Homo sapiens: one gene and its partners. The protein of the gene in region 5 purifies or fractionates together with the protein of the main gene of each other region. This does not show direct contact. Each region holds a gene or a part of one and is shown on either strand. Other genes may lie near its edges. The genes, in order: GCA, TRAPPC6B, ANKRD13A, TRAPPC9, STMN4 and TRAPPC10.

What was found.
Region 1: the proteins of STMN4 (region 5) and GCA purify together in Homo sapiens (affinity purification with mass spectrometry; one large-scale study listed by BioGRID and IntAct). This does not show direct contact.
Region 2: the proteins of STMN4 (region 5) and TRAPPC6B purify together in Homo sapiens (affinity purification with mass spectrometry; 2 studies listed by BioGRID and IntAct, with this or other methods). This does not show direct contact.
Region 3: the proteins of STMN4 (region 5) and ANKRD13A purify together in Homo sapiens (affinity purification with mass spectrometry; one large-scale study listed by BioGRID and IntAct). This does not show direct contact.
Region 4: the proteins of STMN4 (region 5) and TRAPPC9 purify together in Homo sapiens (affinity purification with mass spectrometry; 2 studies listed by BioGRID and IntAct, with this or other methods). This does not show direct contact.
Region 6: the proteins of STMN4 (region 5) and TRAPPC10 purify together in Homo sapiens (affinity purification with mass spectrometry; 2 studies listed by BioGRID and IntAct, with this or other methods). This does not show direct contact.

What each region holds. Positions count from the first base shown.
Region 1 is NC_000002.12:162,357,037-162,362,222, reverse strand, and holds part of GCA (grancalcin), read right to left. Parts: intron 3,180-5,186; coding exon 3,066-3,179; intron 2,730-3,065; coding exon 2,671-2,729; intron 2,007-2,670; coding exon 1,980-2,006; 3' UTR 1-1,979. UniProt on the Homo sapiens protein: Calcium-binding protein that may play a role in the adhesion of neutrophils to fibronectin. May play a role in the formation of focal adhesions.
Region 2 is NC_000014.9:39,152,614-39,157,799, forward strand, and holds part of TRAPPC6B (trafficking protein particle complex subunit 6B), read right to left. Parts: exon of another isoform or gene 4,509-5,186; intron 1,682-4,508; coding exon 1,598-1,681; intron 1-1,597. UniProt on the Homo sapiens protein: Component of a transport protein particle (TRAPP) complex that may function in specific stages of inter-organelle traffic.
Region 3 is NC_000012.12:110,029,599-110,034,784, reverse strand, and holds part of ANKRD13A (ankyrin repeat domain-containing protein 13A), read right to left. Parts: coding exon 5,150-5,186; intron 4,141-5,149; coding exon 4,027-4,140; intron 2,339-4,026; exon of another isoform or gene 2,075-2,338; intron 989-2,074; coding exon 828-988; intron 1-827. UniProt on the Homo sapiens protein: Ubiquitin-binding protein that specifically recognizes and binds 'Lys-63'-linked ubiquitin. Does not bind 'Lys-48'-linked ubiquitin.
Region 4 is NC_000008.11:139,726,650-139,731,595, reverse strand, and holds the end of TRAPPC9 (trafficking protein particle complex subunit 9), read left to right. Parts: intron 1-367; coding exon 368-535; 3' UTR 536-3,871; downstream 3,872-4,946. UniProt on the Homo sapiens protein: Functions as an activator of NF-kappa-B through increased phosphorylation of the IKK complex. May function in neuronal cells differentiation. May play a role in vesicular transport from endoplasmic reticulum to Golgi.
Region 5 is NC_000008.11:27,247,797-27,252,982, forward strand, and holds part of STMN4 (stathmin-4), read right to left. Parts: intron 1-5,186. UniProt on the Homo sapiens protein: Exhibits microtubule-destabilizing activity.
Region 6 is NC_000021.9:44,017,792-44,022,977, reverse strand, and holds part of TRAPPC10 (trafficking protein particle complex subunit 10), read right to left. Parts: intron 1-5,186. UniProt on the Homo sapiens protein: Specific subunit of the TRAPP (transport protein particle) II complex, a highly conserved vesicle tethering complex that functions in late Golgi trafficking as a membrane tether.

The DNA of each region.
Region 1 (5,186 bases), on a different chromosome or scaffold from region 5:
TCAAATAAAATTAAACATGACTGATTTTATTAACCTTGGGGTTTCAGATGCTAATATACCTTGTCAAGCTTTAGAAAGTGAGAGTTTCTAAATATGTTTGGCCATGGAAGCTCCTTCATAGACCTTCTATGACCAAAAGTCATAAGAACATTTTTAAATGAAAATTGTGTTAAAGAGTTCTAATATAGAGTGTCACCTGGCAGAAGCTTACATGAATAATACCATTTGTCATTTTAAAAGTTTTACCTCAACTGTGAGCCTCCAAGTAAGAGAGATAATCATAATCGACCGCAGAATAGTTCAGTAACGACCATCTGTATAACCTGGATGTTAAGATTACAGGTTGCTGAGCGACATTATCACCATTCGATGTGAACGACACTTAGTGTTTTCACATTTGCTTTTTCCTACAACACTTCTAATTAGAATTCTGTTTCTTTAATTTCCCAGCTCAGTTAATGTCCTCTCACATTATCAAATATATGTTCATAAAAAAGCCAGAGAACAAAATTATGTGTATTACCTATTCACACATTTTTATAAAACTGACCAAGTGAATTTGACAGCAAATTATATAAAATTATCAGTGTCAAGTGACTATGCGTTACTTCCTTTCCAGGATTTTTTTAAGTGAAGGCTGATTTAAAATTCTGTAAGTTTATAAAAGATTTTGTTCAAGATATTGCCATCTATCCTCCATCCATTAAGAAACATGGGATTTTATAAAATCTATAAATTAATTTGGTCAGCAGTCATAAAATTATGTCACTCACTGTTAGGTTAGAAAATACACATTTAAAGCATAAGAAAAATAAGTGGTTTATTAAATCTTCACTAAGACAGACATGAGGTGTTTGCCAAGAAAGAAATTACATTAATTATAACATCTTATACCAGGGATATTAAACACTAAAGATCTGGTGATTCTACGTCGCATTTTCGGCAGTTTTAGTACCACGCAGAAAAGTTGCTGTGGTGCCTACTATGCTCAAAACACCACATCACATAGATGCACTCAAAATACTTACTGGGTTTTTAATGGCAAAGCCACCACTAATGTTAATGTTGTCAAATAAGTCAAATGTAAAATTTCTGAACAATTAGAGTGGTTAATTACTTGTTTATTTTTAAGTTTATAAAGAGTTGACATTACATTTAAACAACAATTTAATTAGGACAATTTTGAATGTTGACATATCATCAAAAACATATGCCATTTCTAAAAAGTCTAGATTCAGAGCAGGATGCCATTTTAGGTGAACTATGTCTTCACTAATGAAATAGGACGCAGAGAGAAATACTATGTTTATTAAGAACTTTTTGCTTAGAGAAGACAATAAAACATATTTAAGAAAAATATATAATACAAAAAATAAAAAAGGAAAAAACAATGCCTTCTGTAGTCTTATTTCACTACAGATTGAACTAGGGAGATAATTTTCTTCTTCACAGACAAAGATCTTTAAGTTTCTTTTCTCTGATTATTTGATCAAGGAACAAACTATATTACAAACATGGCACAAAATCCAGGCTTTCATTTCTAGCCAACCCTCAAACACCACCAACTACAAAGAAAATTTAAAAGTCTAATTTGTAACCTTCAGATAAGTATAAATTAGTTTTTTCTAGGCTTTCATTATTTGGCTTCTTATACAATCTATCTTGTAAAGTACATTCCTCTAAATTTACATTATCTAAAATTAAGGCTAAGCATTATTTAAATCAATTAATCATACAATATTTTATGACAATATGCACATATTTATAAAATAACTTTTCCAAAAGCAGTAATACCTCAAATTAAAAAAGAAATCTTTTATTGCTTTGAACTATCTGCTAAAATAAAAACACACAGAAAGGGAAGAGGTTTAACAGGTAGGAAGAACATAGAAAACCCTTAAAAGTTTTAAAGTAGTCCAGTTCACTTCTTCCAAACAAAAGAATTCACAGTGTCTCTTCAGGTTTAAAATTCTAAGCATTCAAATTGCCATAGTGCCCTGCAAAAACTAATACATAAGTGAAATTATTATCTATTAAGAATAAAATGGTTTTTAATTATTTTTGACTAATTATATTCCATAAGAGCATTTTCTTAAGAGAGAAAAGTTTGTTTCCAAGGCTTATAATTCAAGCCAATAAATATCAGTAATGTTGACCCCATAACTTCCATCAGTAAATATAAGAAAAACAAAACAAAAACCCTGAAACATTAAAGCACAGGTAAATATAACTGTCTTATACCTTGAATTTTAAAAAACCCTGAATATCAGGTTAATAGTAACCATTTGAAATGAGAAATGAACAGCTTCATAATCCGTCACGGATTAAAATTTTTCCCTCCCTGAGAAAAAATATCACTACAGTAAACTACCCTTTTTAAAAATAATGGTGGTTTTGGCCCTTAAAAGTGATTTGAAAGATCATTTTTTTTTTAATTCAAAAAACCTGTCATAAAAATTGAAAAGCATATTTACAATTTAACATGAAGTCAAATTGTTTGGCACCTATACCAATATTAATCTTATATTTGTGTTACACTGAAAAATATGGAAAAGTATGTGGCATACCAAATATATTATTTCCAGTACTGGTACTTGGGATCACTTAAATTTTTTTACTAACTGAGAACTATCTAGAATGCAGTATAAATATCAAAAGCAGGATACTCACATCGTCATATATGAAATTCGCAGACCCTTGTTGCAAGTGGTCTCTTTTCCTAAAGAAATCTTTAAACAAAGAAATTACTTTTTTATTGTAATTTAAAATACATAGTTTCAAATATTTAGTGCACCCAGGTACACAAAAAGAATAATTTCATATTCAATTAAATATTAAGTGATTGAATAGCCCTGGCAACAGAGATATGAGAAAAACTTCCAAAAATAACATAACGTTTTTATCATTTATATTCCTTAATATTTGAAGCCTTTAAACTAATTAGATTTAACAGTGAATAAAGGGAGAAAACACATATTATTATAAACTTGCTGGAGGAAATGAGACACATTATTCAAGAAAAATAGCTACATAACACTGTGCACTTAGTTTTAAATAGTCAATACCTGTCAATGCTCGAAGCTTCACACAGCAAGCAACATAATCATCAAAGAAAATTCTGCCATTCTTGCTATAACGTTTAACAATAGTAGTTAATGTTTGAGGACTCAACCTATAACCTAAAAAAGAGATAAATTAAAACTTCTAAATGTAAATAACATAAGAACACTGCAAGATTGCTTTCTCATTAAGTCATAAAATAACTTTCAAAATTCATTCCACAAAAATATAATTAGAAACAAAACACATGAATATTGAAATTCATCAGACAAAGGCTTCACTGTTAATCCTGTTAATCGGTATATAAATATCACAATTCTAACTTTGTAATAAAGTCAAAGCTAAGGAAAAGAAAATAATTCTCTTCTTATGAATTTATCATATATTGTTATTTTGAAATAATGTCTAATTTCATGGGTTTTAATGCTTCAATATTTCAAGTATGTAACTTTGTATAGTTCTTAAAGAATATAAATGCAAAGATTACTAATGATCTTTGTTATTCAAATGATATTTCCCACTGAACATATTACTTGCAAGTATCTTTTATAACTAAGAGAAATTTGAGGATCAACATGATTACTCTACAGGGGAAAAAAACAGAAAAACATTCTTTTTTGTCCTGGAATTCTTAGTGTTTCTTCATACACTGTAATAATAATAACAGCTTTCTCGCTATTTCACTGATTTCCTTGGTTCTTTGTTCAGTAGTCCTGTGATGTCCAAAATCTTTGATTTTTACTTATATCAATGAGAAAGAAGTTTTTGATCATTCACTCCCAGTATGTTTAAATTAATTTTAAATTCTATACATGTATTATTGTTTGATTACTCCTATTTTAAAAAATACATAAAATCTAAAATTTAAAACGAATACAACTGAATAAAAACATAAATTAATATATTCTACTTGCTGTACCCTTATAGATGGTCCTATGCATTTAATGAGATGTATACATTTTACTAAGAAGAATGGTAGCCCAGTATTATTGCCCATACATTACTGGATTTGTAGACTTGAACAAATGACACTAATCAATTCAAAGGTGAAAACAACCAAAATAAATGTAACAGGAGAAAATTATACATGCAGCTATAATAGAATGTAATGTGGGAAAGGTATAAATTGAAAGAAGCAGTAAAACATGCAAACTAATGTAATTATATGCAAATATATTTTGAACTTCATATTAGAGAGTTATGAGCTAAATGTGGTACTGATAAAATTCCTAGATTTTCCCATAGTATTCTCAGAAAAATAATTTGAATATTTTAAAATATACATGAAGATCTTAAATTTGGATAATCCAGAATACCCTTTTTACATTCCACTGCCTAACGGGAACTCTGGAGGTTTTCTTTTCTGCCAAAGATTACATTAATTTCCCAACATTAGGCTGAATTAAGGTCCAGGTTTAATCCATTAGGTATTAAGGATCTATAATTGAACTACATATGTTTATATGGGCTGGACTGTCCCTACTACTAAATTAAAATGTCTATTTATAAAACAAAACCAAACAAATCACTAATTTGACTTATTTAAATTGCAATTTGAGATAAGCCCACTTCCATTGGGTTCAGATTTTAACTTCCAAAAAATTAATTTTCATACAAATAGATTTTGTTTAGAAGAGTGTAAATCACAAGCATAAGAACAATTCATAAAGCTACTTAAAACTGCATTAAGTTTAAGCAAATTAAACACCATTGTATGTTATCCATTTTAAAAGTACACTAGGAACATCAGCTTATCAGAGGTATAAGAATAAAGTTATATACTTCTAAATTACTCTAAAATGCAACCTTTCCATCCTGATGTATTTTGGCACCTGCTATGTGTTCTGCACTATCTAAGAAAAAAAAGACAAAAACATGGTTTCTACCACTGAAAACCTATTTTGTACAGACTTTTGACTGACTGAGGCAAGCTTTGGCTCCCAATTAGATATCCTGCCAAGTTATAAAAGAATACAATCTAACTGGTAAGTACTAACAAAGAAATAAATTTAAACACAACAGAAGAAATTCAGAATGTATGCATGTATGGAAGATCATCTTTTGAAAAAAATCATAATTAAAATGGTTTTGTTGAGGTCTTTGGTCAGAATTTACCTACAACCTTG
Region 2 (5,186 bases), on a different chromosome or scaffold from region 5:
TGAGTCATGAAATTTTAAGCTGGAAGAGGCCTTAGAGATTGTTCATCCCAAGAGTTCTTAATCGGGGAATTTGTGACCCCTATGAAAATAAAAACCATGTATATGTGCGTATTTATGGGGAAAGGTGTTCCAGTTCTCAAAGATGTCCATAACTCAAAATAGTTAGAAATCACTGAATTGGTCCAACTTACTCTTTTCACAGCTGAAGAAACCAAGATCCCAAAAAGTTAAGTGAGAACCAGAAATATTAAACTAAGAAGTTAGTAAAAAAGAGAAAATATGCCAGGCATGGCCTATAATCCCAGCACTTTGGGAGGCTGTAATCCCAGCATTTTGGGTGGCTTTTGTAATCACGTCTGTAATCCCAGCACTTTGGGAGGCTGTAATCCCAGCATTTTGGGTGGCTTTTGTAATCACGTCTGTAATCCGAGCACTTTGGGAGGCTGAGGTGGGTGGATCACGAGGTCAGGAGTTTGAGACTAGCCTCGCCAACATGGTGAAACCCTGTCTCTACTAAAGATACAAAAAATTAGCCAGGCATGGTGGCGCACACCTGTAATCCCAGCTACTCAGGAGGCTGAGGCAGGAGAATCACTTGAACCCAGGAGGCAGAGGTTGCAGTGAGTCTCACACTCTGTCCGAAAAAAAAAAAAAAGAGAGAAAATATACACATTAACCATAAAAATGTAATTAGAGCCTGGATACCCCAAAAATATAGAAAATAGGCAATCAGGCCGGATGCAGTGGCTCACACCTGTAATCCCAACACACTGGGAGGCCGAGGTGAGGTGATCACTTGAGCCCAGGAGTTCAAGACGAGCCTGGGCAACATCGTGGGATCCCATCTCTAAAAAATTTTTTTAAAAATTAGCCAGGCATGGTGGCCCACACCTGCAGTCCTACCTCCTTGGGTGACTGAAGTGGGAGGATCACTTGAGCCCGGGGGGGTCAAGGTCAAGATAGGCCATGATTGTACCACTACACTCCAGCCTAGATGACAGAGCAAGACCTTGTCTTAAAAAAAAAAAAAAAGTGATCTACCATACATCTACATTTCACTGTCATTTAGTTATAGTGTTTCTTTTTTTTCTTTTTTTTTTTTTTTGAGATGGAGTTTTGCTCTTATACCCCAGGCTGGAGTGCAATGATAGCACGATCTCAGCTCACTGCAACTTCTGCCTCCCGGGTTCAAGTGATTCTCCTGCCTCAGCCTCCCGAATAGCTGGGATTGCAGGCGCTCGCCAGAACGTCCAGCTATTTTTCATATTTTTAGTAGAGAAAGGGTTTCCCCATGCTGGCCAAGCTGGTCTTGAACTCTTGACCTCAGGTAATCCACCTGCCTTGGCCTCCCAAAGTGCTGGGATTACAGGCGTGAGCCATAGCGCCCGGCCAGTGTTTCTTTAATTGGTCACTCTATGACTATTTAGCTACAGTTTAGTGTTATTGTAACATGTCTCTCATTTCATAGAAAACTCTTTAAACAAAAAAGAACACCTTAAAACATATTTTTAATTCAATAGTTTGTTATGATTAGCACTGTACTTTTCCCTGTAGTCCTACTATTAACAAAAACCCCAACTTCTATTCCATTAAATACCTTAGATGCATGTTCTAAATACTGTTTTCCTGCAGACATCTGAGTAAGCAGGCGAAATTTGTTGTCCTGAAGTACATAGATGCCCTGTTCCAAAAATAGAAAAAAAATCCAAAGTCAATGTACCTAGCAGTCCTTAAAATTATTTTATTCTTATGAAACAATTTAAGTGTTTTTTAAAGTTATTAAAAGTCTCCTTCCCATTGGCCAAGTTTTCTTTTTCTGTTCTTTGAGACGGGGTCTCCTCTGTCGCCCAGGGTAGAATGCAGTGGCACAATTACGCCTCACTGCAGCCTCCAACTCCCAGACTCAATCAATCCTCCCACCGCAGGCTCCCAAGTAGCTGGGACTACAGGCGTGCATCACCATGCCCTGCTAATTTTTATATTTCTTGTACAGATGGGGTTTCGCCATGTTGCCCAGGCTGGTCTCAAACTCCTGGGCTCAAGCAATCTGCCCACCTTGACCTCCCGAAGTGCTGGGATTACAGGCATAAGCCCACGTGCCCAGCCTGGTCAAATTTTGTTTAAATGAAGGAGTTTTGCAATGTTCAAGCTGAAGAGTTGCGAGTTCAGTATTTTCACAACACTAATGTATACCGAACGGTTTTATACACTGAAGATAAAAACACTGTCTGAGACATAGTCCCTATCCTTAAAAACTCATAGTCTAGTACGATGGAATCATTAATACATGTCCACATGAAATAAGCTGTTTGTTTGTATAGTTATTTATTTAGACATGAGCTCTCACTCTGTTGTCTAGGCTGGAGTGTGGTGGTGCAATCACAGCTCACTGCACCCTCAAACACCTGGGTGTTTAGCAATTCTCTTGCCTCAGCCTTCCGAGTAGCTGGGACCACAGACACATGCCACCACACCCGGCTAGTTTTATTAATTTTTTGTAGAAAGGGGGTCTCCCTATGTTGCCTAGGCTGGTCTGGAACTCCAGGGCTCAAGTAATCCTCCTGCCTCAGCCTCCCAAAGTGCTGAAATTACATGTATGATCACCACACCCGACCTAATTTTTATTTTTATTTATTTATTTTTTTGAGACAGAGTTTCACTCTTGTTGCCCAGGCTGGAGTGCAATGGCTCGATCTCAGCTCACCACAACCTCCGCCTCCTGGGTTCAAGTGATTCTCCTGCCTCAGCCTCCCAAGTAGCTGGGATTACAGGCATGCGCCACTACGCCCAGCTAATTTTGTATTTTTAGTAGAGACGGGGTTTCTCCATGTTGGCAGGGCTGGTCTTGAACTCCCAACCTCAGGTGATCCACCCGCCTTGGCCTCCTGAAGTGCTGGGATTATAGGCGTGAGCCACCGCACCCGGATTTATTTGTTTATTTGAGACAGAGTCTTGCTCTGTCGCCCAGGCTGGAGTGCAGTGGTGTGATCTAGGCTCACTGCAACCTCTGCCTCCCGGGTTCAAGCAATTCTCCTTCCTCAGCCTCCTGAGTGGCTGGGACTATAAGCGTGCGCCAATATGCCTGGCTAATTTTTGTATTTTTAGTAGAGACAGGGTTTCACCACGTTGGCCAGGCTGGTCTCGAACTCCTGACCTCAGGTGATCTGCCCACCTCGGCCTCCCAAAGTGCTGGGATTACAGGGGTGAGCCACCGCGCCCAGCTTTATTTTTTTAAGAGACAGAATTTTGCTGTTATCCAGGCAAAAGTGTAGTATTTCACTGTATCCTTGAACTCCTCCCATGTAGCTGAAACCTCAGGCACATACCAATATGCCTGGTGAAATTTTTTTCAAGTTTTTTGTAGAAATAGGTTCTAAGTATGTTGCTCAGGCTGGTCTCCAACTCCTGAGCTCAAGCAATCCTTCTGCCTCAGCCTCCCAAAATGCTGCAATTCTAAGCATGAGCCACCATGTCCAGCCAGCTGATATATATTAGTAAATCATGTCTAGAGAGTAAAAAAATCATAGTCATTTCTTCCTATTAGCATTTCCAGTAATTCCAAGCTAAAGTTGGTACAAAATGAATTCCAGGCCAGGCACAGTGGCTCACACCTGTAATCCCAGAACTCTGGGAGGCCAAGGCGGGAGGATCCATTGAGCCCAAGAGTTTGAGACCAGTCTGGAAAACATAGTGAGACACTGTCTCTAATTAAAAATAAATAAATAAATGAATTATCCTATTGAGAGTACCAGATACATTTAATTTTTTACTTAATCAAAATTCCAAATCTACTCTAAGTATTTCCTTGAAGTTCATAAAATAAAATCTAATGAAGCTGGGAGTGGTGGTGCATGCCTATAATCCCAGCTATGCAAGAGGCTGAGGCCAAAGAATTACTTGAGTCCAGGAGCTCAAGACTAGTCTGGGCAACAAAGCGAGACTCTGTCTCCCTTTTAAAATTTTAATAAATACATAGTTTTCTATGTAATCTATTAATTTTGTAGTAAGAAAATCTTTTAAGAGTAGAAAATATGACAGCAGTAATAATCCAGGAGTTATTTAAGAGTAAAATGCTCTATAAATTAGACTTTAGAAATGACTATAAAGAATCTCTTCCTGCCACCCAAGATGCCAAAAGGAAAGGCCAAGAGGAAGGAGGTGGCTCTGGCCCTTGGTGTCATGAAGAAACAGGAGGCCAAGAAAGTGGTGAATCCTGGTTGGGCGTGGTGGCTCACGTCTGTACTCCCAGCACATTGGGAGGCCGAGACAAGCGGATCACTTGAGGTCAGGAGTTCGAGACCAGCCTGGCCAGCATGGTGAAACCCCACCTCTACTAAAAATACAAAAATTAGCCGGAGTGGTGGCACATGCCTGTAGTCCCAGCTACCTGGGAGCCTGAGGCAGAATGGCTTGAACCCAGGAGGCGGAGGTTGTGGTGAGCCGAGATCGCACCATTGCACTCTAGCCTGGGCAACACAGCAAGACTCCATCTCAAAAAAAAAAAAAAAAAAAAGAAAGAAAGAAAGTGGTGAATCCCCTGTTTGAGAAAAGGCCTAAGAATTCTGGCATTGGACAGGACATCCACCCAATATGGACCTCACTCACTTTGTGAAATGGCCCCGCTATATCAGGTTGCAGTGGCACAAAGCCATCCTCTGTAAGCAGCTGAAAGTGCCTCCTACAATTAACCAGTTCACCCAGGCCCTGCACCGCCAAATAGCTACTTAGCTGCTTAAGCTGGCCCACAAGTACAGACCAAAGACAAAGCAAGAAAATAAGCAGAGGCTATTGGCCCGGGCTGAAAAGAAAGCTGCAGGCAAAGGGGATGTCCCCACTAAGAGACCACTTGTCCTCCGAGCAGGAGTTAACACCATCTCCACCTTGGAGGAGAACAAGAAGGCTCAGCTGGTGGTGACTGCACACTATGTGGATCCCATCGAGGTGGCTGTCTTCCTGCCTGCCTTGTGTCATAAAATGGGGGTCCCTTACCGCATTATCAAGGGGAAGGCAAGACTGGGATGTCTAATCCACAAGAAGACCCGCACCACTGTCGCCTTTACACAGATTAACTCAGAGGACAATGGAGCTTAGGTTCAGCTGGTGGAAGCTATCAGAACCAATTACGACAGACAAAACGAAATCCACTGTCACTGGGGAGGCAATGTCCTGGGTCTCAAGTCTGTGGC
Region 3 (5,186 bases), on a different chromosome or scaffold from region 5:
AACCCAGGACACACCAGAGGGTGCTGGAGGCAGACCAGACCCTACCCTAGTAGAGCCAGGAGGCACAGAAGGAAGGAGATGGAAGGAGTTGATGTTAGGGGAGGAGGACCTCAAGCCTTGGACTGTCCCAGGTAGGTGAGGCATGGAGGGAGAACCAGATATGACAATAAAAGGCAACTGTTCTACTGGGCACAGTGGTGCATGACTTTAGTCCCAGCTACTTGGGAGGCTGAGGTGGGAGGATCTCTTGAACCCAGGAGTTTGAGGGTGCAATATGATCATGCCGGGGAACAGCCACTGCACTCCGACTTGGGCAACATAGAGTCACACACACACACACAAAGCCTACTGCTTACACAGGTCTGTCCTGTCCTTCATTTTCTGTTTCACTAGAGACCCAGAGAGAGTTTAGGGAGATGGTACCCTTTGTGGAGGAAGTGGGATTCAAATCCACTTCACTACCTTCATCCGAGACTACTGACACACAGGTAATCCTTCAGGAAAAATATGATACTGCTTCAGTGCTAGAAAATGATGAAGCACATCTCAAAAAGTACAGAATTACAAGCTATGTGCGTGAATATGAGGAAAAGGAAAGTCTGCCTGAAGACATCTTGTGAATGGTGCTGACTGGGATTATGTAGATGGTCTCTTACATAACAAGCTTTTGTAAGAAGACCAGATGCACAAAGTATAACCTATGCAAATACCATGAATGTGTCAAACTTGATATTTAGAATAAATCTTTCAGATTAGCCAAACACTGAGGCTAACCCAGAGGGTAAGACCTCCCACGCCCTGCCATTAGAGTATTCTGATAAACACACCTGGCTCCTGCTGGACTCCAGCAGACTTTGCTGGATGGCAAACTGCATTATCTCGTAATCTTCATCTTGCAAATGCACATTTCTGCCATTGTCTTGAACATAGTAAGATTCGGGAATTTCAAACACAGATTGATCAACCTCAAAGTTTGTGATGTGGGAAGCTGAAACAAAAGGCAACCGTCCAGTGTCTGAGTTCATTACATTTCCACTCCAACTTTTTGCAAAAATGTTGTACATTAGAAAAAAAAGAAAGGCTCAAAATTATAACAATCAAGGCTTACTATTATATGAGAGATTCTGAGGAAGCATGACAGAAAAAAGTGACAGAATACAGCTTTTTTCTTTTTCCTTGATTTTAGTGGAAACAACGAACACAGTCATAAAAAAATACACAAGACTATAAAATGAAAAGCGCAGATTTCTCCCCCTAAACATATACGCACAGTCACACCAATGTGTTTCTTCCTTTTGCAGGAAGATATATGGTAAATATATAAAAGTATATATAAAATATCTGAACACTTAAAAATGATAATAATTAAACAAATGCCTGTGTGCCCTTCACCTAGCCTAAGACACAGAACACTATCAATAACTGCCGGGCGCGGTGGCTCACGCCTGTAGTCCCAGCACTTTGGGAGGCTGAGGCAGGCAGATCACAAGGTCAGGAGATCGAGACCATCTTGGCTAACATGGTGAAACCCCGTCTCTACTAAAAATACAAAAAAAAAAAAAAATTAGCCGGGCGTGGTGGCGGGCACCTGTAGTCCCAGCTACTCGGGAGGCTGAGGCAGGAGAATGGCATGAACCCGGGAGGCGGAGCTTGCAGTGAGCCAAGATCGCACCACTGCACTCCAGCCTGGGTGACAGAGTAAGACTGTCTCAAAAAAAAAAAAAAAAAAGAAAAAGAAAAAAACACTATCAATACCATACTGCGGGCACATCCCTTGTTAACAATATTCCCTTCTTCCTCTCCAGAGGTAAATACATAATTCAGAATAGTTGTTTACACTGCCTAGCTCTTCTCTGGAGCTTGCCACATGTATATCATCCTAATAGTTTGTATTAGCCTGTTTGTGAACTCGACATAAATGGAATCATGCGGAATTTATTCTTCAAATTGGATTTTCTTCATTCAACATTATGCTTTTGAAATTCAACAGTTTTGACGCACATAGCTATAAATTTTTATTTTCAATACTATATGTTATTCTGTTGTATTAATAGAGCACAATAGCGCATTCTACCATCTCGGGACATTTGGGTCGTTTCCAGGTTTCTGCTGTTATGAATGGATGCTGCTGCCCAGTACTGGGGTCTCCAGATGCTCATGTGCATAACTTTCTTTAGGGTACACATCTAGGAATTGCTAGGTCATCCACATCTTCAGTTTATACAGTAATGCCGAATGTTTTATTCAAGGAACTATACCAATCTCCTCTTCCAGCCAAGAGTGCACGAGTGTTCCTTAGCTGCACAACCTCATGAACACATCTCACCCAACTTTGTTGCTACATGGGAATGTAAAGGTGTATATTATTGTCGAGTTCAATTGTTTTTATTTGAAGTCTTAATTTATATACATTAAAATGCTATCTTTTAATTCCTCCTACTGGTAGACTACAGGGGAGAAACATAGGACCATCATGATAGTTGCAGAAAACACATCTCACAAAAATCAATACTTAAAAATGGTAATAACTCTCAGCAAACTAGAAATATAAGAGAATAATGTCCTCCAACTAATAAGGGACATTTATAAAAAACCTACACAGCTAACATCATACCTAATGGCACAACAATCCTTCCTCCCCTAGAACCAGGAACAAGACAAGGACAGCCATTCCTACCACTCTTACTCAACATTGTACTAGATGTCCTAGCCAGTCCAGTAAGTCAAGAAAAAGAAATGAAAAGCTTAAAGATTAGAAAGGAAAAAGTAAAATTTTCTTTATTAATAGACAACATGACCATATATGTAAGAAATTCTAAGAAATCTACAAAAAAGTGTAAGACAAGTAAATTCAGCCATGTTACAAGATAAACAAGGTCAATCCTGGCCATGCAATTGTGTAAGAAAAAAAAAAGATAAAAAATTTTTAAAAACGATTCAAGGTCAAAATACAAAACTCAATTATATTTCTATATACTAGTAACTGGAAATGAAATTAAGAAAATAAGTCCATTTACAATTGCATCTAAAATCATGAATTGTATTGATGGCAAAGGAGTGTAAGGAAATTTGGGGGCATATGGAAATGCTGTCTACCTTGACTATGGTGGTGGTTACACAGATGCATACATTTGTCAAAATGTGGCTGGGTATGGTGGCTCACACTAGCACTTTGGGAGGCCGAGCTGGGTGGATCACTTGAGGTCAGGAGTTCCAGACCAGCCTAGCCAACATGGTGAAACCCAGTCTCTAATAAAAATACAAAAATCAGCCAGGCATGGTGGCACGCACCTGTATTCCCAGCTACTTGGGAGACTAGGCAAGAAAATCGCTTGAGCCTGGGAGGCAGAGGCTGCAGTGAGCAGAGATTGTGCCACTGCATGCCAGCCTAGGTGACAGAGTGAGACTCTGAGAAAAAAAAAAAAAATGCACTGAACCATCACACTTAAAATGAGAGCATTTTATTGTATGTACATTACACCTCAATAAAGCTGATTTTTAAGAACATCCTTTCTTTTTAATATAACTAGGATCATATATATTCTACAAGTTTTTTTTTGCTTAATCTAAACTAAATCTGAAATTTTCTTTCATCCAACACAGACATCTACTCCCTCAGATATTCCAGCTTCAGAGTGAATTATGAATATGATGACTGAATTATAATTTTTTTTTTTTGAGATGTAGTTTTGCTCTTGTTGCCCAGGCTGGAGTGCAATGGTACAATCTCGGCTCACAGCAACCTCCATCCCCCCGCCTCTCCCCCAGTTCAAGCGATTCTCCTGCCTCAGCCTCTCGAGTAGCTGGGATTACAGGCATGCGCCACCACACCCGGCTAATTTTTGTATTATTAGTAGAGACAGGGTTTCTCCATGTTGGTCAGGCTGGTCTCAAACTCCCGACCTCAGGTGATCCACCCACCTCGGCCTCCCAAAGTGCTGGGATTACAGGCATAAGCCACCACGTCCGGCCATAAATTTTTTTTTAAATAACAAAACTAAACTTTGTATTTATTTATTTTTTTACCTGAATCAGCCTGGGTCCCTTCCACATTTTGAGATACAGATTCTTCGGCAGTGCTACAGCCATTAACATTTCCAAATGTAATCCGTGCATTTAAGACATGAAACAAGGGAATTTCTAACAAACAAAATAAAAACTTTTATAAGTAAACTTTACTGAGAATAACAATAATAGTTATCATTTACTAAGTGCTTACTATGCCAAGTACTTTGATAAGTATAATTTTATTTAAGCCTCATAACAACCCTTCCCAATACACAGACGGGAAAACTGAGATTGAGAGTTGTGTATTTTCGGTCAGGCGCGGTGGCTTACACCTGTAATCCCAGCACTTTGGGAGGCCAAGGCGAGCTGATCACCTGAGGTCAGGAGTTCGAGACCAGCCTAACCAACATGATAAAACCCCATCTCTACTAAAAATACAAAAATTAGCTGGGCGTGGTGATGCATGCCTATAATCCCAGCTACTTAGGAGGCTGAGGCAGGAAAATCGCTTGAACCCAGGAGGCAGAGGTTGCAGTGAGCCAAGATCATGCCACTTCATTCCAGCCTGGGCAACAGAGCGAGACTCCATCTCAAAAAAAAAAAAGAGAAAATGAGTTATGTATTTTCTCCTAGATCACAGTGAGTAAGTGATCAAGCCAGGGTTCAAGTATCATGAACATACAACTATCCAAAATTAATACTCTTCATGAGTAGTATGTATGATATATACATATATAGCATTATGCATACTAGCTTGGGACGTAGATCATATTTACATATCAAAGGATCTTGGTGTCAACTGTCTTCCTCAAATAATTATCTAATTTGAAGTCTCACTGAATTAAGGTTTGACATTAAAACAATGACTGTGTCATGTTTTTATGCCTTTTTATATCTGTCAGCACCATTTGCAAATAGAAATGATGGTTGGAGATCTCTTGACTTTGATACACAAAATGAACCACTAATCATAACACTTCTTTAAATCAAACCACAGGAGAACTCTGACCTCCTCTGTTATGTCTATAAGCTACTTTGACCTAAAGCACTCCAATTCCCTGAAGCATCCTGCCACCCACATGCTGCCACCCACAAACATGGGCAGAACCTCCAAGTGTTGCTGAAGTTTATTTAGCAGTACCTATTTTGACAGGAAATCCAGGTGGGAATTCCAATTT
Region 4 (4,946 bases), about 110 Mb from region 5:
ACCTCCCACCTCCTACCTCTCAAGCTGCCTCTCAGCACCTCACTGTCAGGCCCCAGCACAGGCTAACATTCCATTCCCCTCTGCCCCAACCTCTCCCTCACTCCCTCCCACACTCCTGACCCTCCCACACTCCTGACCCCCTGAGCCCCCAAACAATTCAGGAATGGGAATATTGGCAGCTCCTTTCCAAGATGAAAACTGGCTCGGAGAGGCGCAGTGACCTGCTGGAGGGGGCACTGGAGCCAGGCCTGGGCGGCCCTCGCTTCCCCCATAACACCTATGTCCAGGCAGATTCCCAGGATTCCTGGTGGCTTTGGGTGGCCCCTGCTGCTGACCAGACTGATGTGTCTTTCTCCTCCCTGCTCAGGTGCAGCCGTCCGGCCAGTCGGCCTGCCTCGGGGCCCTCCTCTTCCTCTACACGGGAGACTTCTTCCTCCACATCCGGTTCCACGAGGACAGCACCAGCAAGGAGCTGCCACCCTCTTGGTTCTGCCTGCCCAGTGTGCACGTGTGTGCCCTGGAGGCGCAGGCCTGAGCCCGCCTACTTCCGTCCCTCTTTCTGCAGGGCCAGAGGTGACCCTGCCTGGCCTCCCACACCCCCTGCAATGAGCAAGGCCTTCACTGCAGCCCCATCTCCTCCTCCTCCCCCAGACCCCTCCCAGCCCTCTCCTCCTGTTCCTCCTGTAGCATCTTTGCTGGGCTACGCAGAAGCCCCGGACATGGCAGCCCCACCCCATGCCACGCCCCTTCCTACACTGTTCCCTGGACCATACACAGGCTGAAGCAGAGGAAATCCCAAAGCGGGTGCCCATCCAGCCCAGGTCCCAGGATCCCTGCACCCATTTCTGTGACCTGGGGCCCCAGCCGTGCTGTGCTGCTCATCCCAGCAGAGGGACCTCCCTCGTCCAGCGACTTCCCTTTGGCCATAGAAAGAAATGGTGAGCATGAGACTGGGCACAGCCTGAGGGCGTGGGCAGCTTCCCACCCTCCCTGGGCCTTGGAATCCCCCAAGGCTGGTTTTCTTCCTGGAGACCCCCATGGGCAACTTGGCAGGAGAGATGGTGCCGTAGGAGGTCGTGGATGGTTGATGCCAAGAGAGGCCCTCCACCCGTGGTGGGCAAATGTCCAGGCCTGGGCTGGCAGCCCAGGGCTGTTTCTGGGTGCTCCCTGGCCCCAGGGTGGCGTCTGGTTACCATGGCTGTGTGTGTCCATGTCTGCAAGCAGTTCTTCAATAAATGGCCTGCCTCCCCCTCCCTGCCTCCCTGCATCTGCTAGCCCAGTGCAGTCCGGGGCCCCCACCCAGCCCGTCAGCCCCCACCTCAGGTGGCTGGCTTCCCAGCAGAAGCCGGACCCAGGAAGGGACGGGTTCTGAGTTAGAGATCTCACATAAGCAAACGCTGAGACAGGAATCTGGTCACCAGCAGCTTGTCTGGGAGGTGGAAGGAGGCCTGCAGGGGAGGGAGATCACCAGTGAAGGAGTGTGACTGGGCCCGAGCTGCCGCCACAGTGGGCAGCTGGCCCTGCGTTCCTCAGGGAGGACCGGAGAGAGAAAGCACACGGCTCACATCTCCCTTGAGGGCCAGAGCTGGGGTGTGTCTACACTACCCACAAGAGTCCTGTTCTGGGGGCAGGCTTCTGGCTGTGTTGACCCTTAGCTCCCCAGGTCCCAGGGAGGATAAACAGCCCTTGGTCCCCAGCAGATACCAGGCTCGTCAGGTGCCCGTTGGGCACTGAAACTCCCATGGAGTATTGGGGGACAGAGAGCGGGGCTTCCTAAAGGCCAGTTGGCCAAACAGGCAGAGCCAGGAAGTGGCTGCCCTGGCCTCCCATGGGGCAGAGTCATGTTGGCATCAGGAGGCCTGCGGGGCTGAGGGAACTTCCTGAGGACCTGAAGTCCCAGGCCCAAACCTCCCTCGCTGGGAGCAAGGTCACCCTGTGGCCTCCGGCCTAAGGAACAAATTTTTTGTTCCATCTGTGGCCTCCTGTTGTCGCTCAGTGAATGATGGGAGCACACTGTGATGTGGTGTGGGCTGGGGGCATGTGGGGGCGGGTGTCCAGTGGCCCTCAGTTCCTGGAGCTCATTCAGCATCTGCTCGAGGCTCCCCAGGGAAGGCAGCCCCAGAAGGTCTGGCTGCAGTAGGGGGTGGAGACCCCAGGGCGGTCTCTTCAGCCCTTCCGTTCAGGATGCCTCAGCGTAGTTGAGGGCCTGGCCACCTGGGCTGTTTCTGAATGGAACAAACAGCATCCATGTGTGTCAACCTCAACAGAGCCCAAAAATACGCCATTGAATGAAACAACACATTGCAGGATGATGGGCTCAGCCCAACCTCACTTGTGTAGACAATGTCCCCCCAAATTATAAATTTTCTATGCCTCAGAACGTGTCTATAACAACATGTTTAAAAGGTAGAAAGGATACACATCCCCTGTAGAAGAGTGACCTGAACTGGAGTTGCATTTGACATCTGATGTCAGCATGAGGGTGCTGGTCACCGGGGACTTGAGTACGTACTTTCCTTTCAAAAGCACAATAGATCAAGATACAGGTACACACATAGCTACAGATATAGATCCAGCCACAGATCCAGATTAGATATAGATGCATATAGAAGCCTAGAAAAGCCAATATGGAAAACTCTGGCAGTGTTTGATTCTGAGTGGCAAGCATATTGGTGACTGTAATTATTTCTTGCAGTTTTCTATATTTTTTAGTTTCCCAAACTGCAAAAAATACCCACAACAGTTACCAGAGAAAATGCTGGATGCCACAAGAAGGAAGAACCTCAAGGGGCAGGAGGCAAAGTTGTCTTCTTGGAGGAGGGGGTGTTAGAAATAACCCAGGCCTCCTGGAAAATGACCCAAATACAGCCTGGCTCTGCCAGCCCCAGGCCCTTCCCCACCCCCAGGGCACCCTTTCTGTCCCAGTAGAGAAGGTGACCTGGAGTCAGGCCTTGTGTGTGCTCCAAGCGTTTGGAGCTTTACCGTGGGATGTGGGGAGCCAGGGGTGTTGTTTGCTGGCATTTCTGTGGCTGGGTCTTTCTGGCTGTGGAGCTGTGTTTGTGGGCAGTGGCTGAGATGGAGGACCTGGGGCAGGTGTCTCAGTGACAGCGCAGTATCCTCCAGCCTCTTCCAGGGCCCCACGCTACTGGCTACCTGGCAATACAGTCCAGCAGTTGCTGCTTCTCTAGGCCCCTGGTGCATTCAGAAACCTCCTGAAGGCCAGCGGAGGGTAAGCCAGGAACAGATCATGTCCATTGCACTTCACTAGCTGAGCGAGTTGGTTCTGCCCTTCTGATCCTTGGTCCCTCAGGGCCAGGACAGGCCCGGTGACCCCATAATCATGCAGCCGTCATGCTCCGTCATCTGAAATTCACAAGGAAGGCAAGGATTCAAAGGAAGATGTCTGAGATGCTGAACTCCAGCTCAGCCACTTGTCAACTCCTTGACCTTGGACAAGTTACTTAAATTAAGCCTTGATTTTTTTTCATCTGAATAAATAGAGATAAAAATACTTATTTCATGGACACTTTCATATCAGTTTATTTGATTTAACCTCCTAGATTTTTTTTTAGCACATGATAGCAACTTCTTAATAAATACTGGGTCCCTTCTCCTAGCCTTCCCATTGCTGTTCTTTTTAATTCCATCCACATGTCCTGTGCCTGAAATATCCTGTGCCATGTGCCTGAAATTCCATTCTTCTCCTGGAACCCTTAACAGGCCACATTGCTATGCTCCGTTAGTCCCCTGCATGGCTTAATGTATTAGGTAACATGAAGCATGTAAGGAAGAACTTTCTAACACAGGTGCTGAAATGGGACAGGAAATGCTGATGGAGTGAGCTCTTTGTCAATAGAAGTATTCAAGCAAAGTCCGGACCTGTAGATGGTTTCAAAACATGTAAGCATCATTTGGGGCTTCTGAGCCTACCAGCCAAGAAATTGTCAATGATGACTTGTTAAGAGGTATTTCTGATCCCAGTAAGCAGGGAAGAGAGAGAGATGTATGTGACCACATGGCTCTTGGGGCCTCAAGCAATGTCTTAAGACACAATAAATTTTGATCAAAAAAGGCTTTCAACATGAAGGGCTAGAGATCTAGACTAAGGGTCTAGGCTAAGCCTCTTACTGAAAACACATTTGTAAGTGCATCCATGACCCGGCAGGAGAGTCAGAAATATTCACCCCAGTACCTGTGTGTAGGCAAAGTCCTGGGAGGTGAGCTGTGCACTGATGCCAACTTCCACTTTGAGGGGTTTTGCCAAAGCTGGAGTATCAATGTCTTCAGCCTTCCAAAACTGGAGGAAAGATGACAAAGCTCAGGGCCCACTGGCTGGGGAATCGAATAGATGACTGCTCCGCATCAATTTGAGAGCCTAAAGATTACACCTTTAGTAAAGGATGAACTAAAAATAATCCTCTTCCCACCCTACTAGGAGAGTAGATATAACACTTCCCTGTCTTGACCCTTTGATTCCATCTTGACCCTTTGATTCCATATTGACCCTCCCATGAATTTGCAGTCCCAAATTACACTCCCTAACTGCCTCTTCCAAACCTTAAGTTGTTAATTAATTTCAAAGACAGACAGCACTCCATAATACAGGTACCAGACAAAGAAATAAACACATCCTTTCTGGAGGAATTCATTTTTATCCAAAAACCTGCAAGAGTTTCTATGAGGAAAATGATTATTTCAGAGTTTAAAAACAAAGAAAATCATGAAATACACAAGGAAGCAATGCATCATGAGTGAGAGCTAGGAGAGACAAAATCAGCAAATGCAGGGTTGAAAAGGAATCATACTGGACTTATCAGACATAGACTGTGCTTAACATGTTATAAGAAATGAAAAAGATAAAAATGGGTAAAGAGCTAGAATATCATAAAAGAATCAAGCAGAACTTCTGCAACTGGAAAACAGAATTGATGTGAAATATTTAATGA
Region 5 (5,186 bases):
GCAAATCCTCAATGGGAGATTCTATCCAAGACGTCAGCCAGCAGAGCAATGGAAGGCAAAACCCAGTGCAGAAGCAAACCTCCATCCCCATCCCTCAGAGGTTCCTTATGTGTTTTCTGTTAGGTGAGAGCCAATCCTAGCCCTTCTATTGCCCCTAAGGAAGACCAGGAAATTCATTGCATCCAGCAGCAACAAAGATCAAAGGAGCCCCAGACAGAAGGTCAATGTGGCAGTCATTCAGCCAATATCCAGAACCAGAGCTAGAGCTCAGGATGGCAGGCCCTCCAGCTCCTGCCTGGTGGTCACTGTCAAGCACTTCTGATGGACACAAACTGGTTGGTCAAGAGCCAAGGCCTCCCTGGGCAGCTGAGCCCCTGTGCTGGCAGGGATTGATCCAGTGGAGCAGGTAGAGAGAGGACTCTATTTATTTATTTATTTATTTATTTAGTATATAATTCTGTGCCAAGCCCTCTGCTAGATCTTCAGATGGCAAAGATTCGAGTGTGGCCTCATCCCAGACTGTGATGAGGTTACTATGCAATTGAGGTTCTGCAGTGCCTATCACCTTGCAATGACTGTGAACCTGACTGTGTGCCAGGGATGTGGACTGGGTTTACTCAGGAACACAGGAGGCCCACTGGGCTGCATGCAGGGTGCAGTGGGACAGAATGCTAGAATAGGAACTGGAAAATTGCAGAGACCTCTGGACCAGTGAAGGACTTTGTGCTTTATCTCCCACCCAGTAGGAAGCCACTGACATCTTTTGAATGAGGGGAGAAGAGAACAGTGATGCTGATAATAATAGCAATAATAACAACTACCATTCTTGGGCAGGAAAAGCACGGCTGTTATCTCATTTTTCTATTAGGTTCTTTGAGAATGAGGACATTGAATCTCAGCAGTTAAGTAAGTTATACCGTCGTCACACAGGTAGGTAGGGGCAGAGCTGGGATTTGAGTCCTCATGTGTTTCATTGGAAAGCCTCTCTGTCTTTAGGTTCTGCTGCGAGTGTAAAAAGATTCATCTGGCAACATTCGTTTGGGGAAAAATTAGGAGGGATAGGCTGGAAGCCAAATAGCAGTCTGGGTACAAAGTGTGGGTTGGACCTGCTGGATTGAGTTCCACTCTGAAGTTTTCACATCTCACCCAGCACTATTTTTCCATTTACAAACTGATCCATACATTTCCCCCAGCACCAGCATCTAAGAGTCTGTACAGAAAAGCAAGGAACCAGAGCTTTTTGTTGATGGCTTGAACCATTAGCATAATTGTTAAGAAATAAATTAGTGGGTGATAACCCCCCCCAAGCACAGAGCCAGCCGTAAGGAAACACAGAATGAGTAAGTTTTGATTGGAGGCAGACGTGGCTGAGAGTGAAGTTGTAGGCTGTTGACTGAGGAGGGATCTCACGGTGGGACAGTGGGGAGAAAAAGGTGGTTAAAGTGAAGAGATCAGAGCCCTCGATTTCACCCAGAACATTTGAATGTCAGAGATGGAGAGAACAGGCAATCACAAGCCCATGGTTCTCGACTCAGTGCAGTCTCACTCCCGGGAACTACATGGGACTTTTCAATGGTCATGAAACTGAGGATGCTACAGGCATTTAGTGGGCAGAGGCTGGCGAGTCTAAATGTCTTGCATTGTATACATCAGTCCCACACGATAAACAACTGTCCCTTCCAAAATGCCAATAGCCTCCTACTTGGGGACCAAAGATTCTGAGGTCACGCAGAGAACTCCTGGCAGAGATTGGATGGATTCCAGTGTCAATGCCCTTCTCCTTTATACTTGCTCCTTCTCTGTCCCCAAACACCATCCTGGATGAGAGGGGACAGCCCACATGGTCACCAGAGCAGCTCTGAATGAGAAGATGGATACACAGAAGGGAGACCCCAGCAGGGCACTTTCATGCAACCCACACTTCCAGGCTTTCCGTAATTCAGCTGATGTCCAGGGGGCAAACAGAAAAGCACCAAGTTCTCAGATGACACGTGGCCACCTACTGGGTGTATGCCTGACCTCTTAGTGCCTCTGACTGCCCATACGACAGAATGAACAAGCATTTTATTGGTCACTGTAAGAAATGCCCCAAGAATGCTTGCAGGATGTGTCAAATTCCATCTGGACTATTTTTGAGGGATGAGCAGATAATGCATGTCCCAGTGGCTTGAACAGAGTTGTACCTGGCAAGGGTTTCGGAAGACAAATCTAGAAACTCTGGCCAAGAATCAGGATGAATACCTCATGGTTGTGGGGGCAATGAATTCTGCCTGAGGTCCTCTAACCACAAGCAGTACAGGAAGGTGGTTCTTTAAGTCTGTGCCCTATTGCCAATCTTCTTCAAAATCCAGTTGAGGTCATATATTTACCCAAAATTAGCTGCATAAGCTATCTAAATGCCACATTTATTTGCTTTGGGATGAATCATGTCAGCTCAGAACAGTGGCCCTGGTTATTTCATGCTGATCAAAAGGCTCTGATTGGCAGCCATGTGTCTTCTTTGGGTTTAAAATCAAAAGGAGATAAATTATTTTTTCATAAATGTGGTTTTCATTCTTTCTACAATATTTACTGAGTATTTAATTATGTGCCAAGCCCTCTGCTAGATCCTAAAATAACCACAGGAGTTTTTGTTGGTGGAAAAGTAAAACAGGTCCCTGGATGGGTATCTAGAGCCATTGGAGCCTTTGGAGGCTCTGCAGATGCTCTGCGGGCCTCAGCATGGTCTTCCGCGATAATGTGGACCATGCCATAAAGGGAGAAGGAGTGGGAATTAGAGTGCAGACCAAGAAGGAACCAGCGAGACCTACAGAGGGAAACTGGGCAAAACAGAACAGTGTGTGATTCACTGGGTCTGGGGAAACTGGCATTGTTTAATCACCTCTTAGGCTCTTGCTTCCAACAGCATCTAGAGGAAGAGATGATGGGGACCTGGACAAGGGCAACTCCCAGAGGGTACCCAACAGGCTTAGGCTTCTAGGAAATAAGCACCTATGACAAAAGCAGAACTCTGAAGGCCTGAATCTGAGGAGTCCTTCTTAGCACTAACAGCTATGTTAAGAGGCAAGTCAGAGAAGGAAAATTAAACTGGAAAAGTGACAGCCCCAAATAATCCACAATGATGGGATTTTCTGGGCAATTTTTATTTCCAATTTAATATATGCAGAAGCGGCTGAGTGCGATGGCTCATGCCTGTAATCCCAACACTTTGGGAGGCTGAGGCAGGCAAATCATGAGGTCAGGAGTTCGAGACCAGCCTGGCCAACATGGTGAAACCCCATCTCTACTAAAAATACAAAAATTAGCCCAGCGTGGTGGTGCATGCCTGTAGTCTCAGTCCCAGCTACTCGGGAGGCTGTGGCAGGAGAATCACTTGAACACAGGAAGTGGAGGTTGCAGTGAGCTGAGATCATGCCACTGCACTTCAGCCTGGGTGAAAGAGTGAGACTTCATCTCAAAAAATAAATATATATATATACACGTATATACGTATATATATATACATATAATATTATATATATACGTATATACGTGTATATATATTATATATATACATATGCAGAAGAATCAGCATCACAGAAGTCAAGTTCAGGGGCATGGACTTCCATTCTGGGCTGCTGGAGAGTGTGCAAGGCATGTGACCCAGGAGTTCTGTGAGGTCCTGGGTTAAAAGCACATGAAGCCATCAATATACAGGGCAAGCCCTTTTAATCTTACTCCCAATAACAACAATGTGATTGAATATTGCTTTATGATTACATCTATAGGCATATGTGCATCTTATAAATAATGCTTTAATTACAAACATATTCACATTATATTTTGGAAATTCTATGTAACAGAAAAAAAGAAAATAAATCCTTGTAGTCTTGCTACTTTATGCTATTGGCATTTTCTTCTAGGTTTTTTCCCCTCTGTCTACTATTTTTACATAAGCCAGAAACCAGGGCTTTTACAAAAGCAAGGGAATCTACATTTAAAAAAAATTTCTTTTTTGCCATCTTTTTTTTTCTTTTTTTTTTTATTATTATACTTTAAGTTTTAGGGTACGTGTGCACATTGTGCAGGTTAGTTACATATGTATACATGTGCCATGCTGGTGTGCTGCACCCACTAACTCGTCATCTAGCATTAGGTATATCTCCCAATGCTATCCCTCCCCCCTTCCCCCATTCCACAACAGTCCCCAGAGTGTGATATTCCCCTTCCTGTGTCCATGTGATCTCGTTGTTCAATTCCCACCTATGAGTGAGAATATGCAGTGTTTGGTTTTTTGTCCTTGTGATAGTTTACTGAGAATGATGATTTCCAATTTCATCCATGTCCCTACAAAGGACACGAACTCATCATTTTTTATGGCTGCATAGTATTCCATGGTGTATATGTGCCACATTTTCTTAATCCAGTCTATCATTGTTGGACATTTGGGTTGGTTCCAAGTCTTTGCTATCGTGAATAATGCCGCAATAAACATACGTGTCCATGTGTCTTTATAGCAGCATGATTTATAGTCCTTTGGGTATATACCCAGTAATGGGATGGCTGGGTCAAATGGTATTTCCAGTTATAGATCCCTGAGGAATCGCCACAAAGGGCTAATATCCAGAATCTACAATGAACTCAAACAAATTTACAAGAAAAAAACAAACAACCCCATCAAAAAAAATTTTTTAAGGTAGAGATGGGGTCTCACTGTGTTGCCCAGGTTAGCCTCAAGCTCCTGTGCTTAAGTGATCCTTTGGCCTCAGTCTCCCAAAGTGCTAGAATGACAGGCATGAGCCACCGTGCCTGGCCAGGGCATACATATTTTATCATTTTATTCTGCACACCAAATCTTATACACACTTAATAGATCATCAATTTAGGTAAGTGACTTGATTTGCCCAAAGTCATACAAGTAGAAAGTGGTAAACATGGGATTTGAATTGAAATCTTCTTATATCAAAGCCCATGCAATTTCTGATAAAGCTCCATGTTATGTCCTCATATCCAAGACTACCCTAGATGTAAATGCAATGGATGATTGCTGATGGCATGTGATTGAAGGGCAGGCAAATACCCCATATCAGCCTCCCTTCTATGGGTGCATTCCATGCTTAAAATTCTCACCATTATATCTATCCTTCAGCTCAGGCATTGCCTCAGAGAGTCCCTGTTAAAATGCACACAACTGACCTATCAAGTGT
Region 6 (5,186 bases), on a different chromosome or scaffold from region 5:
GTGATGTGAAAATAAATGGCTGCCAATTTCCAAAAGGAGAGGTAATCGGACATCACGCACCTGCTGGAAGAACAGCAACACCCATGATAAAGTCCTGCCGACAAAAAATCCAGCCTGAAGCTGACCCAGCCTCCAGCTCCAACTACCAAAGTCTAGGCAGTGGGACCTTTTCAAGACAAATGAGCCAGGTTCATCAAGTTATAAAGAAAAAAAAAGAGACAGAGGGAACATGAAGATTTTAAGAGACTTAAAGGATTTATCTAAAAACTGTATTTGGATACTAATTCAAACAGTTTTAAAAATGGACATTTAAGACACACTGGAAACTTAAACACTGAATATTTGGTATTAAGAAACGTTTTAGGCCCAGGCATGGTGGCTCACACATGTAATCCCAGCACTTTGGGAGGCAAAGGTGGGCGGATCACCTGAGGTCGGGAGTTCGAGATAAGCCTGACCAACATGGAGAAACCCCATCTCTACTAACAAACCCCGTCTTTGTAAAAAAAAAAAAAAAAAAAAAAAAATTAGCTGGGCATGGTGGCACACGCCTGTAATCCCAGCTACTCGGGAGGCTGAGGCAGGAGAATCGCTTGAACCTGGGAGGCGGAGGTTGCAGTGAGCCAAGATCGCACCACTGCACTCCAGCATGGGCAACAAGAGTGAAATTCCATCTCAAAAAAAAAAAAAAAAAAAAAAAATTTAGCCAGGCATGGTGCCATGTGCCTGTAATCCCAGCTACTTGGGAAGCTGAGGCAGAAGAGTTGCTTGAACCCGAGAGGCGGAGGTTGCAGTGAGCTGAGATTGTGCCACTGCACTCCAGCTTGGGCAACAAGAGCGAAACTCCATCTCAAAAACAAAAACAAAAACAAAAGAAAGAAAGAAACGTTTTAGGTGTAATTAAAAAATACCATGAAAGAAAAAAAAAAAGAAAGAAATTTTTAAAAAGAAAAAAAAATGCCATAGACTGGGTGGCTTAGAAAACAGTTTTTTGTTTTCTCTCTGAAAAGACCCTAAGAAAGAAAAAAAAAATCGCAATGTATTTTCTCATAGCTCTGTAGGTCAAGAAGCCCGAGATCAAGGTGTCAGTAGATTAGGTTTCTGGTGAGGCCTGTGTTACAGACTGCAGACAGCCACTTCCTTGCTGTTATCCTCAGGTGGCCTTTCCTCGTTTCAAGGGGGAGGTGTCCTCTCACTCTTCCTCATCTAATCCAATAATAAAGGGCCCACCCTCCTGACCTCATCTAGCCCTGGTACTTCTCAAAGGCCCATCTCCTATTCTTAGCACACTGGGAGTCAGGGCTTCGGTGTGTAGGGAGGGACACAAATGTTCAGTCCATAACATCCATTCGTGGATAAATTATATGTCTGAGATTTGCTTCAAAATAATATAAGACTGGGGAGAATGAGGGGTATAGAGAAGCAAGATTGGGCAGTTCACCTAATTGCTGTAGTTGGGTGAAAGGTTTGTAGGGTCTCTTTATAATATTCTGTCTACTTTGATACATATTGCACTTTTATAATAAAATATGTGAAATGTTACAGTTCTTCCATTTCCCTTATCCTTCTCTTTTTCTTTTTTCCATAGCACTTGTCACCTAACATTATTTGTCTATTGTCTATCTCTTCTTGACAGAATGTAAACTCTCAAAGGGTTGGGATCTTTGCTCTCTGACATAACCCAAGCCCCTTCAGCAGTAACTGGCATGTAATAGGTCCTCCGTAAATGTTTGCTCACTGATGAAAACAGCCCAACTCCTCCATACTCCACACTAGACAACCCAGGATCCCCAAAGGACAGAACAGACTACAGGAGAAGCAAAGACAGTGCTGGGTATCAAGTTCTCAGAATAGGAATTTAATTTTGGAATAAGACTATACTAAAAATTTCTAGTGTATAGCTTACTTACTCAATTCTTAGAATGCTAAAGTGACATTTTTATTTAATTATATGGCAAAGGCTTTCTCAGAAGCATAATTTTAGGGACAAACTCCCTGCTTCCATGTGAACAGATGGTGTCTGCCTTCCCTAAGTACTTGGTAAAGCAGGAGTCATCAGACATGCTAATATTGGTCCGAGCTGTGCTACTAAACAGTTACACTGATCATGGCCAGTCACAGCAAAACCAGCCCTCAGCTCCTCAACTTCAAAATGACTTCTGACGGCCCTTCTCATTAACCTGGATGTTTAGAGCTTGCTGACTGGTCTAGGTGAACTGACAGTGCCCACAAATGGCAAGCTACAGATTGAGTTAAAGTTACTATCCAAACAGGTGGTTGTCAGTTCCAAGGCTCTGCTAAAAATTTCAACCCTGAAATTGTTTTTTTTTGTTTTTTGTTTTTTGAGACAGGGTCTCACTCTGTCGCCCAGACTGGAGTGAAGTGGCACAAACATGGCTCACCGCAGCCTCAAATTCCTGGGCTCAAGCGATCCTCTGGCCTGTCTCCCAAGTAGCTAGGACTAGAAGCACGCACCACCATGCCCAGCTAACTCTGAAATGTATACAATCGCTTCAAACTGCTAACAGATCTCAGTTAAAAATAAGAAAAATGGGCCAGGCGCGGTGGCTCATGCCTGTAATCCAGCACTTTGAGAGGCCGAGGCGGGCAGATCACAAGGTCAGGAGATCGAGACCATCCTGGCTAACACGGTGAACTCCATCCTTACTAAAAATACAAAAAAATTAGCCAGGTGTGGTGGTGGGCGCCTGTAGTCCCAGCTACTCGGGAGGCTGAGGCAGGAGAATAGCGTGAACCCAGGAGGCGGAGTCGGAGCTTGCAGTAAGCCGAGATCACGCCACTGCACTCCAGCCTGGGCAATAGAGCGAGACTCTGTCTCAAAAAAAAAAAAAGAAAAGAAAAGAAAAATGTCCAAACATACAATGGAATGGTCCCTGGTCACTGTTAAAAAAAAAAAATTGCAAACAGGGGCCTAAAATAATATTCAGAAATTAAACACCATGTAACAAATGTCCAAAAAGCCACATAAGGGAGAGAGCACAGAAGAGGCTGGACTTTTCCTAAGAAGGGATCACCCCACCTTGTAACCACATCTAGAACCCAGAAGCCCAAATGTCAAGATAACATTCCCTCGGTCAGGAGTACACGAAGGACAAACCTCCAAAGACAGACGCAGCTGTCTAAAACCAAAGACGCTTGATGAATGCCGGCCACTGCGCGCTTGGTAGCTAACACAGACAGTGGTGCGGCAGGTGGCATGGTGCCCCACAACATCCTAACCCTCAAAACCTGTGAATGTCACCTTATTTGGGAAAGGGGTCTTTGTAGACTTAATTAAGTTCAGGAGCTCAAGATGTGATTATCCCAGATTATCCAGGCAGGCCCTATATATAGCTGGATTCTAGATATATTTCAAAGATAATGTCAGTTGTGAGAGAAAAAAGAAGTCATAAATGACTCCAAGGTTATCAATTTTTAATTTAAAAACAAATATTCTCTAAGGCCAAAATACTGTGACTATATTTGACATTAAGAGCAGATAGAGGAAAGATTTGAGGAAGAAAGAAGGTGAGACACAGGACAGGAAGCCACAGGAAGCTCTGAGGCAACCCACCACAGAGGCAGGCACTGAGGTGGGAATGTTTTGACTGTTTAAGACCCTGCAGCTGTCTGGGCACAGTGGCTTATGCCTGTAATCCCAGCACTTTGGGAGGCCAAAGAGGGCGGATTGCTTGAATCCAGGAGTTCAAAACGTGCCTGGGCAACATGGCGAAACCCCATCTCTACTGAAAATACAAAAAATTAACTGGGCATGGTGGCACACAAGCAGCTACTCGGGAGATTGAGGTGGGAGAATCACCTGACCCCAGGAGGTCAAGGCTGCAGTGAGCCGAGATCATGCCACTGCACTCCAGTCTGGGCGACACAGTGAGACCATGTCTTAAAAAAAAAAGACCCTGTAATCTTCTGCCGTTGCTGGTCTCTAACTCCAGATCTAAAGCCACCAGGTCTAGAGTGGAGCACGGGGGTGGGAGGGTCAGTACTTGGAGATCAGTGTGCAATACCTTTGGAGACCACACACTTACACACTAAGGCATGCGACTCCAGGGAAGACACTCTGTCAACTGGCAACAAACTTTCCTACGACAAAAAAATCCTTAAGTCAGTTATTTGTATTTCCATTAAAAGATAACCAACTCAGCCAGAGTGAGCCACACAATCACACTGTCAGTTGGCAGGCCTCTGGTGGAAGCACACAGCAAAAACTCTCTAAGGAAAGACTGGTTCATGTGTTATGCCCGACATACTTTTTTTTTTTTTTTTTTGAGACGGAGTCTCACGCCAGGCTGGAGTGCAGTGGCATGATCTCGGCTCACTGCAACCTCCGCCTCCCAGATTCAAGCAATTCTCCTGCCTCAACCTCCCGAGTAGCTGGGACTACAGACGCGAGCCACCACGCCCAGCTAATTTTTGTATTTTTAGTAGAGACGGGGTTTCACCATGTTGGCCAGGGTGGTCTCAATCTCTTGACCTCATGATCCACCCACCTTGGCCTCCCAAAGTGCTGGGATTATGGCCATGAGTCACTGCGCCCAGCCTTTATTTTTTTTTCTGAGACCAGGTCTTGCTCTGTCACCCAGGTTGCAGTGTGAGGTACAATCACAGATCACTGCAGCCTTGACGTCCCAGGTCCAAGTGATCCTCCCGCCTCGGCCTCCCAAGTAGCTGGGAGTACAAGCGCACACCACCACACCTGGCTAACTTTTTTATTTTCATTTTTGTAGAGATAGGAATTCCCTATGTTGCCCAAGCTGTATCATACTTGATTATTTCAGAGATTCATCAGCACTTAAGAAAAAAAGAAAAAAAAAAAGAAAATCAGACCTTTCCATTTCATTTGCATAAAGAACTTACTAGAAACTCTTCAGAAACACATCTTGTAGTAAAGTAGGTGTGTGAGCTGAAAAGAAAGGAAGCTTTTCAATTCTAAAGTATCAGTTCAAATCCACCCTGGAGTTGGGCTAATAACACTAACAGCACGGGTTCCCAAACTGTGTACCTAGGCTTCCCACACACTACGCAGAGAGGCACCAAGAGATATTTTAAATTTATGAGGGAAACAGCAATGCTTGTGGTGTAGGAACCCCACACAAGGTATTCACAGTGTCAACATCAGATCAGGGCTCCACTTCTTTCGATGACATCATTATCGTCGCAAAACAGGG